2 separate regions of the Homo sapiens genome follow, and region 2 is linked to region 1. The links come from fine-mapping of genetic effects on gene expression. A gene starts in region 1. The other region holds a variant in brackets. All regions are shown on one strand. Distances are from middle to middle.

What was found. PIP is the estimated chance that this variant, and not a neighbour inherited with it, causes the effect. A credible set is the group of variants that fine-mapping cannot tell apart.
Region 2: its variant is the best candidate, but not a certain one, in a credible set for the expression of MTMR9 in lung (TOPMed, PIP 0.63).

The regions. Positions count from the first base shown.
Region 1 is chr8:11,282,498-11,286,497 of GRCh38, reverse strand. MTMR9 (myotubularin related protein 9) reads right to left here and starts at 1,682. Exons shown (of 10, transcript NM_015458.4): 1 at 1,428-1,682. The coding sequence starts at 1,609. LINC00529 (long intergenic non-protein coding RNA 529) reads left to right here and starts at 2,467. Exons shown (of 5, transcript NR_170283.1): 1 at 2,467-2,647. RefSeq lists a silencer at 1,594-2,003 and enhancers at 1,697-2,198, 2,474-2,533, 2,624-2,713.
Region 2 is chr8:11,313,326-11,317,325 of GRCh38, reverse strand. MTMR9 (myotubularin related protein 9) reads right to left here. Exons shown (of 10, transcript NM_015458.4): 7 at 2,262-2,403; 8 at 433-653. MTMR9-AS1 (MTMR9 antisense RNA 1) reads left to right here. Exons shown (of 2, transcript NR_189628.1): 2 at 1-1,467. Among named protein-coding and RNA genes, the nearest start is that of MTMR9-AS1, 10 kb to the left of the region's middle. The variant A/G (reference allele first, on the strand shown) is at 2,439.

The DNA.
Region 1 (4,000 bases):
AGACGGGCTTTCATCATGTTGGTCAGGCTGGTCTCAAACTCCTAACCTCAGGTGATCCGCTCACCTTGGCCTCCCAAAGTGCTGGGATTACAGGCGTGAGCCACCGTGCCGGGCCCACTGAAGACTTTATACAGCAAAAGGTGGCTTGAGGAGACTAATAAGAGCCCCCTGCTCATATCAATCAATCAATCTACCATGGCTTCACCCAAACTGCCTGCAATTCTACCATTAGAAATTTTTATTTTAGGCCAGGCGCAGTGGCTCACGCCTGTAATCCCAGAACTGTGGGAGGCCTAGGCGGGAGGATTGCGAGGTCAGGAGTTCAAGACCAGCCTGGTCAATATGGTGAAACCCCATCTCTACTAAAAAATACAAAAATTAGCCGGGTGTGGTGGCGCGTGCCTGTAATCCCAGCTACTCGGGAGGCTGAGACAGAAGAATCGCTAGAACCTGGGAGGTGGAGGTTACAGTGAGCCGAGATTGGCCACCGCACTCCAGCCTGGGCAATACAGTGAGATTTCGTCTCCAAAAAAAAAAAAAAAAAAAAAAGAAAGAAAGAAAGAGATTATTATTTTAAGGCATATCCTCTGTACGAATCTTCCTAATATCCAAATTATCCTGTGAGGCAATAGAAAATGTTGTCGTCATTCATTTATACTTCTGTGTAAAACGGATAATCAGTTTGCCCTCTCCTGGCTAGCGAGTAGCCACTAAGGAGATGGGAATTTTGAATGCAGATGAAAGTTTAACTTTTTGACTTCGAGGCACTGCCTTGGAAAGATAAAGTCTGGAGTACAAAAAGAAAAAAGAGGTTAACTGGTCCATGCCTTTCCTTGAGAGCCAACCCTGTTCTTTCAGCAAGCAGAATTGAGTAAAGATGAAGAGAAGACATCAGAATCTCCCTTAGTGAGAATTAAATTTTGATGACCCAGAAGGTAAGAAATAATATGATACACTGAACATTTTTCAGAAATTAAAAAAATGGTTCTGTAGCATGTAGACACTCATAACTTTATAATCTGTTTAGTTTTCCTCAGAAATGGTAAAGACTTTACCTAAATCACATCCAATCACTTCATGAACGGTGACTGACAATACCAATTCAAGGAATACGATGGGGCAAGAAGAAGAAGAAATTTATAAAGACAATGCCGAAAATCCACCCAAATGGTGTTACGAACCAGAAATGATCATCAGGATGGTACCAGCCACACGATAACCCTGAGAACTCCATCCAGGTTTAATGGAAACCGGGTCCTCCATCTGGACGGGTTTCAGCTTGGTAAATCCTGATTCTAGGCCACAGAGGGCTCATCTTGCCGGCTAGCTGGGCGGCAGGCTGCGCGGAAAACGCCAGGAAGTATTTCCCGGGGCGCCCACAAGGGACCCCCGGCTCCCTGCGGAGCTGGGGTGGGGCGGGCACTCACCGCTTGTCGATGGCGTCGATGTTTGAATGGAGGAGCCACAGCTCCTCCGTATTGTCCTGCCGGGAGGACAGGATCAAGTGGTGGCCCGTCAGGCACAGGGTGCCCTCGACAGCCGGGTAGAAAGGCCGGTGCAGCACCACATTGTCCACCCGCGGGGTCTTAATCAGCTCCGCAAACTCCATGCTCCCCCGCGGCCGGAGCCAGGGAACCGAGCCCGGTAGGTGCGAGGCGGTTACCCCGCCGCAGGGAAGTAGCGGAAACACCCGGCGCGGGGCTGGCCCGTGGGGCGGGGCGGGCCGGGCGGTGAGGCTGGGCCCGCCCCAGGCTGGGTGGGCGCGGCGAGGCCTACAGCCGCCGGCACCGGCCGCGGGGAGACAGGGGCTGGGGCTGGACGAGGCCCAAGCGCCTCTCCCGCACCGCGCGGTTCACCAGGCCTAGGACTCGGCCACAGAGAACCCCTCTCCACAGGCCCAAGGACCGCCGCTGCCGTTGGGCTCCGGGTCCCGCGTTGGCAAGCGGAGGGCAGTAGGAGAAAGCCGCCTCAGAATCCGCTTCCACGCCCTGGCCGCTAGGGACTCCTAGCGGAAGTGGCTACTCGCTGCTGGAGCCCACAACAACTCCGGGCGGAAGCAGCAGGTCTCGAAACTCGGAAGACGCGGAAGTCGCAGCCGGAAGTTGGTCCTCGCTAGGTCCTCTGGAAATGCCTCCGGAAACACAGCCAGACCAGAAGATGTGTGTTCCTACGAGAAAAAAAGCTTGTCTTTGCCTTCACGCCCTCCCGCTGCCTTTCTTAACCACCTACAAATATTCCTTATCAGAAGAGGTCCGGGAAGAGGGAGGAGGTCCCTGTCTTGCCTTCCTCCGCTTGAGTAGTATCCCCTCCAGAAGCTCTTCAGAGCGTGGGGCTGCTGTAAATTGTGATAATTGTTATGCATTAGCCCTGAAGACATGGCAAGTAGGGGATGGAGGCGGTGACTGTGACCTTACGGAATCCTCCAGGGGTCAGGGAGGGACACAGGGCCACTCCACAGGCTCTCCGAGAGCGCCGCGCCACGAGGTGTAACCTGGAGCAAGAAAGAGGAAAAACAGGAATACCTGTGAGAGGAACCCAAGTACATGCAGTGCACAGAAGAGCAAGTCACTTGACTTGCTGGCGGCCACCCCGTTAATCTGCAGCAGAGCCTGGACTTCAGTCTGCATCTGTGAAACCCAGCGCATGGGTGCGTTGGTCACCACCGCACAGCCTCCCCGTCAGACACCCACGTTTCGCCAAAAATTTATTCAAATAATTACTCCTTTGCTTGTTCCTTTCCCACCGCCCACTTCTGACATTTTTATTCAAAAGTAGGAAATAGAAGAGAAATATGTTTGAGTGCTGGTCTGCTGTGACTTCATTGACCTTTTAAATCCTCACCATCTAGTACCTAAGCACAGCGAGTTGGACAAACTCTCACAGTATTCACAAAGTAAATTGCCACAACCTCATCAGCTCATCCAACACTTGTCCATGCTTTTGATTTTGTCCTTCTTAAAATGTACCCTTCTTAAAATAAACCACTTTATAGACTTGTTTTAAGTGAGATACGTAAATGCCTACCAACTTTCCTTGGTGTCTTTGTTGCATAGTTACTGTAGACTGAATAATAGTTGCCATTTTTTATATTTTTGCAGTTTAATTGCTTTCGTCCAAATAGATGGAATCACTTCCTTTGTAATATATGAAGTGTTTTAATTCATTTTTATAACTAGCATTCCTGACAGCACAGGTATCCACCCCCTGAAGTTCCCATTCTATAGAACAAAATAGCAAATAAGTATTTTTTTTTTGTTCCATAATGGACACCCAGTATACACCCAGTATACACAGGGACACCGCATACAGGGAATCAGCTTTATTTTACAACAGAGCTTCACTTTACCCCTCTGGCAATTAATAGATTCTGGGTATTTATTAAGAACTTTAAATTTAATGCAAAGACTGTTAAATACCACCAGCTCAGCTCTGGCAAAGGACTGTTGGCTTTGTTTATCTCCTATCTTCATCCAGATACACTGCCATCCCTATCCCAGCCCGATCTTGGGTCCTTGAAAAAAATGACCTATCATTCCAACTACCAGGGAGGAACTCCCTTTGAATTAATGAATCTGGATGACTTATAAGACTTCAAAAGTATGGAAATGACAAAGGTTAAAATGACAGGATGAGCAGTAAACCCTCTCCAGTCCAATCAGAGCAACCTTTTTGAGGGTGCATTCCCACAGAAACCCATTAGGGGCCCAACATCAACATACACAGAGCTAAAATTCCAGATGCCACTTTGTATTGAAAGAAGCCAAAATTCTGTTCAGGTCGTGGGAACTTGAAGTCTTCAATGCAACCACACCCCAGAAATTAACCCTCACACAATCATGTAAGCTATGCAATTAACCAAACTGCATCGTTTAGAAAACCTGTATGCTTTTCATGGAAACCATCCCTAGTTAAGGGCACTTTAAAGGATGCACAGTCTAAGTACTGTGAAGGTGGGCCCACTAGCTGGGTTGACATTTTCGCTTGGCCACTTTAGTAGGAA
Region 2 (4,000 bases), 31 kb before region 1:
TGCCAAAATGGTTGGGGATCGCTGCTCTAGGCCACACTTTTGATGACCAACTGACTCTATGTCCTGGGAAAAGTCACGTAACTTCTCTGGATCTTACTTTCTTAATAAAATTAGAGGGAAGACCTGAATTATAAATTAAGGCTTTTTCCACATGTAAGATACTATGATCCTATGTTAAGAAATTAACATTTAAAATGGTTGCCCCTTAATTCACGTATGGACTAATTTTAACCTAACAGAACAAAGTCTAGGACATGCTCTCATAAAAGAATATACTTCAGGTCATTTAAATTATAATTAACTGTAGCCTCTACCTTTTTATAAATAATTTTAATATAGATCCAAATCGTCGTCTCCTAGGAGATTCTGGCTACTTAGGAAGTAGCCAAAACAACGGAAAAGGAAAGGTCCCCATGTGAGCAGTGTACTCACCTTTCACTTTCATTGTTGCCCAGAAATGTTCCAAACTGTGAGGCATAAGCATGCTCAAAGAGCATGATGAGGAAATTCTCATTAAACTCAAAAGAACAGGGAAACTGACGAAGGATCTGCCACACGCAGTCCAAGAAGAGAAGAAATACAGGAGCCTCCCACTTCTGCTTGGTGTTACAGTAGGCTGACTGTGCACAGCGCTGCTGGAATGGGTGACCAGCCTAGGGGGAAGATGGAGGCGTGACAGTCATATCCTGGTGAGATCACATGACAGAGCATTCTACCGACACCACTATACACAATTACAGTGACACTCCTAGTACCTGGAACATCATATAATTAGGGTAGCTGTTGTACAGATTAATGATTTCTTGGTATAAAATAAATAGCGGCAGCAACTAAGGAAAAAGACACACTTCCAAATCCTTAATGAGGCTGCGCGGCTAAGGTGTGACCACAGGAACTGCACTGCCCTTGGAATATCCCATGGAAGAATAATGAACTTAAGCAATAATAAACTTACAAAATAAACCTTTCTAGGTCTACAAAACCTGGAGCAAAGTCAAAGAACATAAGCTCTCAGTACAAAGAAGAATCATCACCTCTGTCTAACACTGTAGATTGTGCTGTACACTAAACAAGCCTCACCCTAAGTGGAGACAGATATGGAACTCTGATCACCTTTATAATGTCAGCTCTGATAGTAAATCTCTAATTATATACGAAAAGTTATTGTGTTGAAAGATCTTTATGAGTACTTTTCTACAGGAGATAAAGCTGTCATTAATTACCCTCTTCTCCCAAAATGAACAGCAAGAGTCTGCCATCTACTGACCAAAGTAAATTTAAGACTCATTTGACTGTCTTGTTCAGAACCCAAATGCTGACCTTAATACAAATCATACTCTGCTAGGAATTTCACAGATCTGCTTTGTCTCTGGGTCCTTCTACTACTGTATGTGACAAAGGTAATGACATAGAAATTTTACAGTGGTTCACAGAATTGTGATATCCATTAAAATAACATAAAAATCAGTCAGTCATACTCATTTGTTTGTCTACTATGCATCATGAGGAATATAGCTCAATAGACTTTCATCAAATATGGAGCATAAACTTAGTATGGTCTGACTTAAACAGAGGTAAGGTCAGTTGTCAGGCAGGGTGGACATGGTGTACGTAACAGCATTAGTGCATGATAAATGCGAATTGTAACCAGAGGAGCAAGATACTCTTTTTGCCAGAAAAATGTCTGCTTTCAAGATATGTAAGCATTTGTGTTCAAATACAATTATTTACCAGCTTACACAGTAGAAATATATTGAAAAGTAATCTCTGTGGAGGATATCAATCCCTGTTATGAGTGAGACTTTTATTTTGGCAGCCATCCAACATTACATGATTCAGTTTTATCTTTGAAGGAAGCTTCACAGGGTGGAGCAGCACGAGCAAAAGGCTTTGAAAGGGTTAAAGCGCTTTCCTTGCAACTACAGGCCCCACTCCCCCTTCCCCGACTGCTTATGTCTTTGATCCGTCAAGACCCAGCTTCTGGGAGATTGCACTATGCTTCCCATTCTTTGTATTTCTCCTGTATGTGATAAAGCACAGCCAACAGGAGTTTCCTAAGTGAAGGAAGTGTCAAGTGAGGAATACAGGCAAAGAGACATCCAGAAACAAGGAGAAGACAGATTAACTGTCCTGCAGTAAATTAAACACACAACTTAGAAATTTTAATCAATCGAAATTTCACACATTATGTCAGCTACCACACAAAGCAGGATCACAGCATCAATAAGCAGTTCCTCTGTGAATCAAACAGCTCTTCTCACCTGCAGCCACTCTCTTTCAATCAGGGCCTCAAAACCACGAATGGTCCTGCTTCTTGGCTCTAAGATGATCTGGGCCAAGGAGGTCACCTGGAGTGTGGAATCAGTTCCTTCTGTTCCGTGAATCAATATTGATGCTCCTTCCCTGATAGGAAAATCAGGGAAGAGTACAAATGGGAA[A/G]TGTCCAACATGGTCAATGAACTCTGTTAATAACAAGCGTTTATTGAGCACAACATTTTAGTCTACTGAGTTCAGTTTATTTAGTGTATTGAGTACAACATTCTGCTCTGACTTGTAGAGTTCAGAATCTAAATCTAAATCTAAGGCATACGATAGATAAGATTCTCTTGGGAAAAAATACGACTATAATGAATCTCAAATTTCACATGGCAAGACCTCTTTAAGTTATAACAAATTTCACAGAACCTTTTAGCTGAATTTTTCTTTCCCTTTTCAAAACCAAAAAGCAGCTCTTAACACAGAAGGCATTTACCCTTTCTGCTTTAATCGTTGGTTAAAGCCTCTTCTCATCAAAACTATAGACATACACTAAAATTATTTTTCTGACTTTGACTCTACCTTTCCACCATCAGCTGACTATAAGGACACCTTCATAAACTGTAATTCAATCTGGAAAATGAGACCTAGACCACACTTTGAGAAACACGACAACAGGAAAAAAAACAAACATAAAAGTGTCAATCTAGAAAGTCAGTTGTAAAGATACCACTGCATCATGAGACTCAGAAGTGTCTGGGACCCCATTATTCTAAAGAGAATGAAAGAAAACACCAAAACTAAATTTACTACATCTTCTCCCCTCCCCTTCTTCTACCCTTTCTGTTGAAACAATGAAGGAAACTTTGGAAAAAATAAAAACCACCAACTTCACACAAAAGCTTCGGGTTTGGTTACTACTGTCAGTTTTTACCCATGTACATATACACTACATAGAGCTTTAATACGAGGCAATTTCCTCTATTCTCACTCTTATTCTACACTCGTATCCTTCCATGTTTGTAAGTCATCTTCAGAACTAGGATAATAACAGTTGCAGGCATAGCTCGTTCATGGATCTTCCCTTGGTTGCTCTTCACAGATACTGCATTTTCCACAAATGGGAGATTTGCAGCTATCCCACGTCAATTAAGTATGCTGGCACCCATTTTCCAACAGCATGTTTTACTTTGTGTCTCTGTCTCATTTTAGTAATGCTCACAATATTTCAAAATTTTTCATTATTATTACAACTGCTATGGTGATCTGTGATCAGTGATCTTTGATGTTACTTCTACAAGTTTTGGGGGCATCAGGAACCACGTCCATATAAGACAGTGAACTTAATCAACAAATGCTGTGTGTGTTCTCACTGCTCCACTAACCAGCTGTTCCTTTGACTCTCTCTTCAGGGAGACTCTCTATTCCAGGGATCACAACAATATTGACATTAGGCCAGCCAACTAATAACCCTACAATGGCCTGTAAGTGTTCAAATGAAAGGAAGAGTAGCATGTCTCATTTTAGATCAAAAGCTAGAAATGATTAAGCTTAGTGAGGAAGGCACGTCGAAAGCTGAGTCAGGCCAAAAGCTGGGCCTCCTGCACTAGTTAATCAAGTTGTGAATGCAAAGGAGAAGTTCCTGATGGAAATTAAAAGTGCTTCTCCAGCGAACACATAAATGATACAGTGACACAGCCTTACTGCTCACATGGACAAAGTTCGAGTGGTCTGGATAGAAGATC